3 linked regions of the Homo sapiens genome follow. The protein of the gene in region 2 interacts with the protein of the main gene of each other region in a pairwise test. Each region holds a gene or a part of one and is shown on either strand. Other genes may lie near its edges. The genes, in order: WFS1, ALB and IMMT.

What was found.
Region 1: the proteins of ALB (region 2) and WFS1 interact in binary tests that used the Homo sapiens proteins (3 or more experiments, as listed by UniProt).
Region 3: the proteins of ALB (region 2) and IMMT interact in a two-hybrid assay, tested with the Homo sapiens proteins (one large-scale study listed by BioGRID and IntAct).

Annotation. Positions count from the first base shown.
Region 1 is NC_000004.12:6,272,850-6,276,500, forward strand, and holds part of WFS1 (wolframin), read left to right. Parts: intron 1-3,651. UniProt on the Homo sapiens protein: Participates in the regulation of cellular Ca(2+) homeostasis, at least partly, by modulating the filling state of the endoplasmic reticulum Ca(2+) store.
Region 2 is NC_000004.12:73,402,703-73,406,453, reverse strand, and holds the start of ALB (albumin preproprotein), read right to left. Parts: upstream 2,168-3,751; 5' UTR 2,127-2,167; coding exon 2,048-2,126; intron 1,339-2,047; coding exon 1,281-1,338; intron 1-1,280. UniProt on the Homo sapiens protein: Binds water, Ca(2+), Na(+), K(+), fatty acids, hormones, bilirubin and drugs. Its main function is the regulation of the colloidal osmotic pressure of blood. Major zinc transporter in plasma, typically binds about 80% of all plasma zinc.
Region 3 is NC_000002.12:86,188,932-86,192,582, forward strand, and holds part of IMMT (MICOS complex subunit MIC60), read right to left. Parts: intron 1-3,651. UniProt on the Homo sapiens protein: Component of the MICOS complex, a large protein complex of the mitochondrial inner membrane that plays crucial roles in the maintenance of crista junctions, inner membrane architecture, and formation of contact sites to the outer membrane.

The sequences.
Region 1 (3,651 bases), about 67 Mb from region 2:
ACCTTTTCCTTGTCTCAAAACGTTCATGTACGAGGTCACGTTTACCAGCTGTACAGCGTTGCACCATATGGAGGGGTGTAGGCTTTATAGCCAGCCCCTTTCTGGACAGTGCTGAAAGTGCCATATGATGGACATTGTGTGTGAGCCCCGAGGGCATCTCCAGTGACTCCCCTGGACTGGCATCCTGGAGGCAGAGGCACTGATCAGAGAGAGTGAACATCATCTTGGCTTCCCACAGGGGCTGTTTCTGAGGCACTGGCTTGGGAGATGGGGTTGCCCCCCCAGAGAGAACAGAATGGGGGTGGCCTGGGTGAGGGCCAGAGCCCTTAGGGCAGAAGGCCACGTGTGGTCATTCTGCTGCGGGTCTGAGTGGATGCATGGTGCCTGCAGCCCTCTCCAGGTGGCGGCCTCTCAGCTGAACTCCTTGGTGCCGGTGTTTGTGTTTGGACGGGATAAAAATATGCCTCATTGCTCATGAGGAAAGAATGCTAGCAACTTTGGTTTTGTGGATCTTACACAGTGACGGCTTCTAAGCCATTGCTGTGGTCACCAGTAGGGAGTTGGGGCTGAGTGCCCCACCGTGCAGGTGGGGATCTGAGGGTGCAGAGTGGATGCAGCTGGAGATGCCTGGATGCTGGGGTCTGGGGGAGGGACTTGCTAAGGTCCCACAGCATTATTGCCTGGATGGTGCTCCTGCCCTAGGCCAGGCTGCCTCAGGCTTCTGCCCACATGCATTAAGTGCTTAACGTATTCCTGGCAAGGCAGCCGGTCTTCCGAGTGGATAAGCTGCAGCCCTGCCCTCAGGGCTCACAGTGGCTGTAACATGCAGGAAGACTCAGAGAGGGAAGGACCAGACAGCAGGTCCTTCCACCGGGAGATCTTTTCTGATCTTCATTGTCCCTGTGACCAACCATGACCAGGAATTGTTGTGCTTGTTTTGAAATAACAAGCCCTTTGATCCAAACCAGACTTGGCCAACCCCCAGGGAACCTGAAAATTAATCCTCCTGTATTCATCCATTCTTACTAACCAGAGATTTTACTTTAAACAGTTTTTTTTTAACTGCAGTGTGACATACATGGTACATAGGCCAGCTAGAATCTGTTTTCCTGAAATTCCTTTTATGAAGTGTTTTCCAACTGAACATGCCTTTGTTTAGCACCTGGGAGTAATGGCTTAGGGTTTTTCTTTTCCTTTTTCTTTTTTCTTTTTTTTGAGACGGAGTCTCGCTTTGTCACCCAGGCTGGAGTGCAGTGGCGCGATCTCGGCTCACTGCAAGCTCCATCTCCTGGGTTCACACCATTCTCCTGCCTCAGCCTCCCCAGTAGTTGGGACTATCGGCGCCCGCCACCACGCCTGGCTAATTTTTTTGTATTTTTAATAGAGACGGGGTTTCACTGTGTTAGCCAGGATGGTCTTGATCTCCTGACCTTGTGATCTGCCCGCCTCGGCCTCCCAAAGTGCTGGGATTACAGGCGTGAGCCACCGCGCCTGGCCGGCTTAGTTTTTTTTTAATGCCCAATAGTTTGCTTTCTCTTCTGCCACACACGTAATCCCCATAGCACCCCTATGTGGGAGGTGCTATCCCCATTTTACATATGGGGAAACAGACACAGTGAGGTCATGTGGCCACTAGTAAGGGTAACCGACGCCCCACACCATGTTGCTTCCAGCTGTAACCTCTAGCAGAGGGAGGGCTCTGATGGAGAGGTGATCGCCTGAGTGCTGTGTGTTTACCTGAGTAGGTGAGGAAGACAGGGACTCGGGACAGACATAGCTTGGAAGCTCCCACAAAGGAGGTATCGCTGGAGCTCTTGACTTGAAGGGTGCTTAGGGTCTAGGCTGGGGGAGGGGGGTAAGAAGGCATTCCGGGAAGAGGGCCCTGCAGAAACAGAAGTGTGGAGGTCAGCATTTGTATGCTGATGTTGAAGGGTAGCCAGTGTTTTGCAGTGAATGGGCCCCGGGAGAGAGGGTGCAGTGGCATGGCGGTCTGATTTCAAAGTCGTCTTTTTCAGAAATGAGCTTGCAGAAGCATTAGAATTGGGCAGGTCTGGATTTGAATTTCAGGTCTGGTACCTGGAGCTGTTTGACCTTGAGCAGGTCCCTCCCCTCCCTGCACCTGGGTTCCTGTCTGTGAAGTGGGGTGAGGTTGAAGGATAAAACATTTCCCCATCTATAACTCTGGGATGACAATAGGATCTACCTTCCAGGTCCATGCGAGGAACTCACGACAATAGGACCTACCTTCCAGGGCCATACGAGAAACTCATGAGAAAAGACAAGTACAGAGAACAGAGCCGTTGGTCTTGATGGCAGAGATGCCCTGGCGTAGGTCAGCCCTCAGTAAAGGTGCCCTCTCTCTCTGTCTGAGAAAGTGACACCTGACTTCGGGGCAGTGGGAACCATGGGAGAGAAGGTAGACAAGGCCACGTGTCATTTGAAGACCTGACTTTTCACCATCTCAGGTGGTCCGGTGGCCTGCAGGACCGTGGTTCTGTTTGCCCACAGCGTGTGGGTTCTACGTGCGATCCTGTATTTCTCTGCCACAGCTGACTAAGGGGACACTTAGGTCTGCACGTGCAGTTAAATGGCTGCTTTTGTGGAAGGTGCCAGTTCCCGGGAGCTGGGAACTTGGAAACAGGATGGAGCAGGCTCCCAAGCTTGACCATGCATGGTTTGCACCTGGGGGATGCACCCGGGGGTGCTTGACCATGCATGGTTTGCACCTGGGGGATGCACGGGGGTGGGGTGGGGGGGGGGGGTGTGCTTGACCATGCATGGTTTGCACCTGGGGGATGTTTTACACTAAGGGCTCAGTCCCTCTGAGGGAGGAACGTGTGGATTGAAATCTGCAGAGTTCTTGAGCGACACCAGTCTGATCTTTAGGACTCATTTGCAGCGGGAATGGAGCAGAAATTGTTGTGTGTGGAGCCTGGGGCCACTCCTGACTCTTCCAGTCACAGCTGCCCCCAAAAGTGACCTCTGGGCACCTACTCAGACCTGGCTGCTCAGTGCCAAGCGCTGGGTGTTCAGAGGTGGCCAGGGGACTCCCTCGTGCTGCCCATGGTGTCTGGTCTCACTGGTCCTCACAGTTGCCCCGTCCCCATTTTCAGATGAGGAGGCTGAGGTGCAGAGCGGGATGTGGGCTGCTCAGGACCACACAGCTGGTGGGCACAGAGCCAGGAGTACAGCGCTGCGGCAGCTTGGGGCTGGGAGCGAGACTCTCTGTTACCAGCCTCTCCCTGCTCTGTGCCTCAGAGGATGGCTGTGGCCCTGAGCTTGGGAGGGTCATTTGGGAATCTGAGGAAAAGTTTCCACAGCCTCACACAGCAGCAGGTTCAAGGTCCAGCAGTGCCAGGGGTTTGCATCCCACCCCTAACGCCGCTCATCCAGGGCCCATCCGGGTCCGGGGCTCGGGATCCTGCAGCGCTTTCAGCTCTGTGTCTGTGGCCGGTGGTTGTCCTTCATTACAGGGATGGTGGTGTTTTTCCATGTTGCTAAGCAGCATGTGAGGGCCTCTGTTGAATAAAATAAAGCCCTTGCTCCGGCGTGACACGGGTCACGGGATCTCTGCTCACTCTAGTCTCTTCTGATGCCCCCACCGCACTGTTTGCCTTAGTTTGCTTTTTACTCTCTGTGTTGGTTTCTGGG
Region 2 (3,751 bases):
TGGCTTCCTACGCAAAGAGAATGGTAGTTCCCTAATGTTTATATGTATGCGTGTGTCAGTAGATCTATGCACACACATAGATTAAGCAAGCAAATTGTATGCCAAATAGATCTAATTGTCAAGACTAGGCATTTTTAAAGTCCTTAGAATTACTTAAAACTAAAACAAACCCCACAGATTTCCTTTTTCTTTTTTGAGACAGAGTCTCACTCTGTCACCCAGGCTGGAGTGCAGTGGCACAATCATGGCTCACTGTAGCCTTGACCTCTCAGGTCCAAACGATCCTCCTACGTCAGCCTCCTAAGTAGCTAGGACTACAGGCATGTGCCACCATGCCTAATTTTTTTGTTTGTTTGTTTTGTTTTTTTTAAAGAGACTTGCCCAGGCTGGTCTTGAACTCCTGGGCTCAAGCAATCCTCCTGCATCAGCCTTCCAAAGTGCTGGGATTACAGGTGTGAACCACCGCACCTGATCCCCACACACGTCTTTAATTAGCCTGTAGGATTAGGTAGACTTTTAAAAAAACAATTTTCTCATTTTTTACTAGATTAAAAAACATTTAAATAGGCCGGGCGCGGTGGCTCACTCCTGTAATCCCAGCACTTTGGGAGGCCGAGGTGGGCAGATCACGATGTCAGGAGATTGAGACCATCCTGGCACACGGTGAAACCCCATCTCTACTAAAAATACAAAAGATTAGCCGGGCGTGATGGCGGGCGCCTGTAGTCCCAGCTACTCGGGAGGCTGAGGCAGGAGAATGGCGTGAACCCGGGAGGCGGAGTTTGCAGTGAGCCGAGATTGCGCCACTGCACTCCAGCCTGGGCGACAGAGCGAGACCCTGTCTTAAAAAAAAAAAAAAATTAAATATTCCCAACTAAGCACAGGAATGCTTGCTATGTAAAGAAGATTTAGTGGGTAAGCCACCAAAGGAAACCTATATTAAAGTCCTTTCCACCAAGCAAGTTCCAGAGCTGTACTGTCCAATACAGTAGCCATTAGCCACATGTGACTATATACATTCAAATTAACTACAATTAAATACAATTTAAGTTTTTGTTTCTCAGTTGCACTTGTCATATTTGAAGTACTCAATAGCCATGTGACCAGTGACTACCTTATTGGATAGCCCAGATACAGAATATCTTCCTCAACGCAGAAAACTCTACGAGGCAGCACTGTTTTAGAATCTGAACCCTGATGACAAGGAAATATAAGCACTTTAGAATAATAAACAACACTATTAGAAACATTAAATTTGATTCATCAATATTTTAACTTACAAGGCTTTGAAATTTTCTTCTCCCAAATCTTTAAACCGATGAGCAACCTCACTCTTGTCTGGGCAAGGGAAGAAAAAAAAGGATTGTTAAATACTGAAGAAAACAAGAAGTAATAATGTTACTTTTTATATTTCTTTCCATTTGACTTAGATTATGCATTTGTTTCAAAATATTGGGCTCTGATTCCTACAGAAAAACTCAGGATGATGTTCAATTATTTCTTCTGCCTTTAAACAGAAGAATAATTCAATTACCAAGAATACTATTTTAAAAATTATTAAATATTTATAGCCTTATATTCAAACTTAGATAATATCTAATACTCTTTTAGTGTCTATCAACAGCAACCAAGAAGACAGACTAAAATGAAAATAAATATAAATACAAGTTCTATTTATGAGATCAACAGCACAGGTTTTGTGGTTTTTAAATAAAGCATAGTGCAATGGATAGGTCTTTGGGATAGTTATGAATTCAATCTTCAACCCTATTCTGTGAAGTTTCAGTCACTCTAAGTTACTTTGCACTTTCCTTAGTGCGCAAAAGAAAATTACAGTCACTAAACAATTCTGACCTTTTTTTTTTTTTACCTAGGATGTTTGAATTTTATTAATAAGATAACCTTGTAAGACTTCACAAATACAAAATACTATGCCATTTTAGAAATAAATGCCAAAATAATTCTTTAAAGATGCAGAGTTTACTAAAACTTTATTTTACTGGGAAAATAGAATAAAAGTTGAACAATAGAAAAATGGATTTCTTACGTGCATCTCGACGAAACACACCCCTGGAATAAGCCGAGCTAAAGAGAAAAAGAAGGGAAATAAAGGTTACCCACTTCATTGTGCCAAAGGCGTGTGGGGTTGACAGAAGAGAAAAGCTAGGACAAACGGAGGGAAATTAGCACTAATATACTTCTTTAACCAATAATTGTAGATTATTAACTAGACTCATCTTTGTATTTCATTGGCTGCCAACCGATTACAAAATTCATAATATTCTTGCCAAAAAATTGTTTGACTAAATCCCTTGTGTATATTTACCATCTGGAACTGTTTTCTCCACAAGACCTTGTCAATGTATTAAAGTTGTGTAAAACATCTTATCAAATTTTACATAAGAGTTTAAACGATTTGTACCTTTTATTCATTACCATGGTATTTAACTGTAATTTCCCACTTGAACATTTTAGTTCTTGGTGTTTGCAATTTAGTTCTCAGTGTTTAGTAATTACTAACCAAACTAAATACTTTGCTTAGAAATAAGACATACTGAAAGAGTTAAGTCCCAAATTGCATCTATTGCTAATTCCAAGTGTGCTTTTACCTATAGATAATGAAAAATTTACACACAAGTACTCACGCATGCACACACACATATACATACATACATATTTTAGGGCTTCTGTGTCTTTTTTACTATTCCAAAGCCATTCTGTCTGAAAAAGCTGATGTTGCCTCAGATGCAAACTAAGAAAAAGACATAGCAACAATAACAAGTAAGATAGGACTTAGAAATTCCATGTTCCCATTCCTGCTGTGGCCCACATGTGATTCAAGCCCTGAGATAGGCTATTTAGATTCAGTGTGAGTATATCTCATGGGATCTTCAGTTAAGCAGAGATGGAGAGGAAAATGGACCCAAATGAGATGATGATTATCTTTGCCATAATATACAATAGGACAGGCTGACCCCAAATTCTCTGTAGGTTATGAGAACCCTTGACCTTCACCAGGCATAGGATTCTTTCCATCCCTGTTTCATATTTTTTTCCTTTCTCTCTTTCAATAAGTAGAAAAATCACATGTTCTTTTATGTTGCTTTAAATTTCAAAATAAATTTAACATTATGTCTAAAAACAAAGCGAAGGAAGAATAATTTTTTAAATATTTCATAAATCTTCCTTCCCTACCCAAGGTTCTTATCTCTACCTCAGAAAAGCTATCCTACCTCTGCCCTTTTGCTCAGAATATGAAGAACTACTGAGCTCAACCAGTAGGAAGAACAACTTTCTCTGATACTACAGAACAATAATTAGTACTAAGCCAGTTATTTTACTTAATTAAATAACTCAGTCAGTCAAAACCAGTAGTCAAATTTCCTCATGGCACATAGAGGCACAGAGACTAACAAAGTATTATTTTTTCTACTCAGTCTTATAATGAAAGAAAATTTTTTCTATTCAGTCTTACAATGAAAGAAATTATTTTCTATAATCTTATGTTATTTCTTCTTCAGAAATGGGTACTAATTAACTAATAAAGCACAGAAGAGGAAAAAATCAAAGCTAGATGGATGATAGATACATAGATAGATAGGAAGATTTTTTTTAATGACTCAAGGGAGTCCTGAAAGGAAATACCAGACTTGTCTTTCTGACTACAGATGAACAGACATAAAACAAGTGTGCCTATTTTCCATTGAAGAAAAACAAGCATTTTTTCTAAAGCCAGAAAAACCTACATCTG
Region 3 (3,651 bases), on a different chromosome or scaffold from region 2:
TTCTCTTGTTGCTTGTGCTTTTGGTGTTATAGTTAAGAAACCATTGCCAAACATAAGGTCTGTCTCCAGAGCTCTCTTAAGTACTAAACTATTAACATAAACTAAATATCCTACATTAACACACAAAATATTGGCTACTTTTTTGTCCTGGAATTCCTTTTTATTAATAAGGACCTATGACATAGAAAGGACAACACTGTTTCAAAGCAATCTGTCTAGACATATGTTATAAGGTTAGCCTTGCTGCTTCTAACCCGCAGAAACGTGATATTAAAAAAAAGAGGAAACATATAATTCCCATGTAATGTTCTTTTTTTTTTTGAGATGGAGTCTCGCTGTGACACCCAGGCTGGAGTGCAATGGTGTGATCTCGGCTCACTGCAACCTCCATCTCCTGGGTTTAAGAGATTCTCCTGCCTCAGCCTCCCGGGCAGCTGGGATTACAGGCACCTGCCACCACACCCGGCTAATTTTTGTATTTTTAGTAGAGACGGGGTTTCACCATATTGGCCAGGCTGGTCTTGAACTCCTGACCTCAAGTGTTCCGCCCCATGATTAATGCTGTTACACAGACCATCTGTTCCTTAGCTCTACCAAACTAAAGTGAAGACATAAAGAAACCACAATCTAGCATGACAACCTGGACATGGAGCCTGTAGTATGAGCTGCCTCATGTGAACTCTAACTAGAGGTTCCAGGTTTCCTCCACAGACTGCTGGTTGCTGTCAACTGATAACGTTTTTGTGGATCTTGTCATACATAAGGACTCCTCCCACACAAACGAAAAAGGCACCCATAAGTTAATGGGCAGTTCTACATTTGAAATATAGATTGATATACAACAAATTAACTTTTTCTACTGTTAATTTAAAATAGTTTATAAGAATCATGCATTAAGGTTAAAAAGTATATCCCACAAAAAAATCCAGTAAGTTTTTACATTGAAATTTTACATTTTACATTACAATTTTACATTGAAGCAGCATTACATTTCAGTATAAACATATTCTATTCTAGGAGAACACGTGCTCTTTAGTTATAGAAATGGCAGATACTTATCAGTATGACAAAAGCAGGAACTTGACACTTTAGTTTTCCCTGCACATATGTGAATATATTTTGTATGTTATCACTTCGGTGTAGTAAGTTACGGCGTAAGATGTATTTCAAAATGGTTTGAAGGCTACTGGTCTAGAGATATGAAAAAAGGAACAATGAAGAGGATTCTAGCATGGGTAGAAGCAAACACCTGGCCGCATGATCTACTAAACTACTTTCTAGCACGTGTGGTTGGCTGCCTATCTCTATCACTGAGTAACATAATGTTTCATAATCCTAACAGAAAGAAGGAATTCTAGAAGATGATAGCTCATGTCCACACACAAGTTCAATCCTAAACTAGCTGGGTTATCAAACTTGGTCTTAAGTAAGCTGGAGCGGTTGATCCTCAAGAATAATAATGTTTCTTCTTCTTCTTTCAAGTTATAAGCAGGAAAGACTACTCCATATGTAAATGACCACTTCCAGGTTTGTAGTTTGAGAGAAGGCTAGGCTAGGCGGAAAGCCCATGTCCTCCAAACTCAATGACCACTTCAAAAAGGCTGGGCCTGGTGATGCAGTATTGGGACTAAGAGAAGAAAGATGGTGTTAGGTCTGAGGAATAAAAGAAGAAAACAAAAACAGAGGGACCAGAGTTCTAAAGCACATTTACTGAATACCCACATCTAAGGAATGCAAGGATGATAAGCCCAAACATAAAGAATAAGGCAGATACTGTGTCGGGTGCAGTGACTTAAGCCTGTAATCCCAGCACTTTGGGAGCCCAAGGCGGGCAGATCACGACGTCAGGAGATCGAGACCATCCCGGCTAATATGGTGAAACCCTGTCTCTACTAAAAATACAAAATATTAGCTGGGCACAGTGGCACGTGCCTGCAGTCCCAGTTACTCGAGAGACTGAGGCAGGAGAATTGCTAGAACCCAGGAGGCGGAGGTTGCAGTGAGCCGAGATTGCACCACTGCATTCCAGCCTGGGCAAAGAATAAGGTAGATACTATCTGTGATGGTTCATTTTATGTGTCAACTTGGACTGTGTTTTTGGATGAGATTAACATTTTAATTGGTGAACTAGTGGCCAGGCATGGTGGCTCACTCCTGTAATCCCATCACTTTGGGAGGCAAAGGCGGGTGGATTGCTTGAGCCCAGGAGTTTGAGACCAGCCTGGGTAATATAGCCTGTCTCTACAGAAAAAAAAATACAAAAGTTAGCTGGGTGTGGTGGTGCATGCCTGCAGTCCTAGCTACTCAGGAGGCTGAGGTGGGAGGATGGCTTGAGTCTGGTGGATGGAGGTTGTAGTGAGCTGAGATTGCACCAATGCACTCCAGCCTGGGTGACAGAGCAAGACCCTATCTCAAAAAAAAAAAAAAAAAAATTTGCCCTATAACATGGGTGGGCTTCATTCAATCAGTTGAGGGCTCAAAAACAACAAAAAGCAAGAGGCAATTCTCTAGCAGACTGCCTCCAGACTGAAACTGCACCATCCACTCTCCTGGGTTTCCAGGCTGCTGGCCAGCAGACTGCAACTGCAATATTGGCTGTCCTAGGTCTCCAGTCTGCCAAACCACACAGCAGATTCTGGACTTGCCAGTCTCCATAACTGTGTGAGTAGAGTCCTTACAATAAATCTTTCAGCCAGGCGCGGTGGCTCACGCCTGTAATCCCAGCACTTTGGGAGGCCAAGGTGGGGGGATCACAAGGTCAGGAGATCGAGACTATCCTGGCTAACACGGTGAAACCCCGTCTCTACTAAAAATACAAAAAAAAAAAAAAAAAAAAAATTAGGCGTGGTGGCAGGCGCCTGTAGTCCCAGCTACTTGGGAGGCTGAGGCAGGAGAATGGCATGAACCCGGGAGGCGGAGCTTGCAGTGTGCTGAAATGGCGCCACTGCACTCCAGCCTGGGTGACAGAGCAAGACTCCATCTCAAAAAAAATTAATAAATAAATAATAAATCTTCCTAGGCTGGGCACTATGGCTCACGCCTGTAATCCCAGCACTTTGGGGAGGAGAAGGTGGGGATATTGCTTGAGCCCAGAAGTTCAAAATGAGCTGGAACAACATTGCGAGATCCCATCTCTACTAAAAGTCCAAAACATTGGCTGGGCATGGTGGCATAAGCCTGTAGTCCCAGCTACTCAGGAGGTGAGGTGGGAGGATCGCTTAAGCCCAGGAGATTGAGACTGCAATGAGTTATGATCACACTGCTGTACTCCAGCCTGGGCAACAGAATGAGACCCTATCTCTACACACACACACACACCCTTATTGTTTCTGTTTCTCTGGAGAATCTGAATATATAATCAGAGGTTTGAAAATCTATGGGATGTTTAAAGGGAGGTCACATCCACTTACACAGATTAAGAAAAATTCCACTTTGGGAGGCCGAGGTGGGCATATCACTTGAGCCCAGAAGCTGAAGACCAGCCTGGGAAACATAATGAGACCCCATCTCTAAAAAATCTTTTTAAATTAAAAAAAAATTCATGAACACATTCATTCTTTCATTTATATATGTCATAAACATTCACTGAGCATCTACTTGGAGCCAGGGACTATTGTTAATACTGGAAATACAGCAGTAAATATGGACACA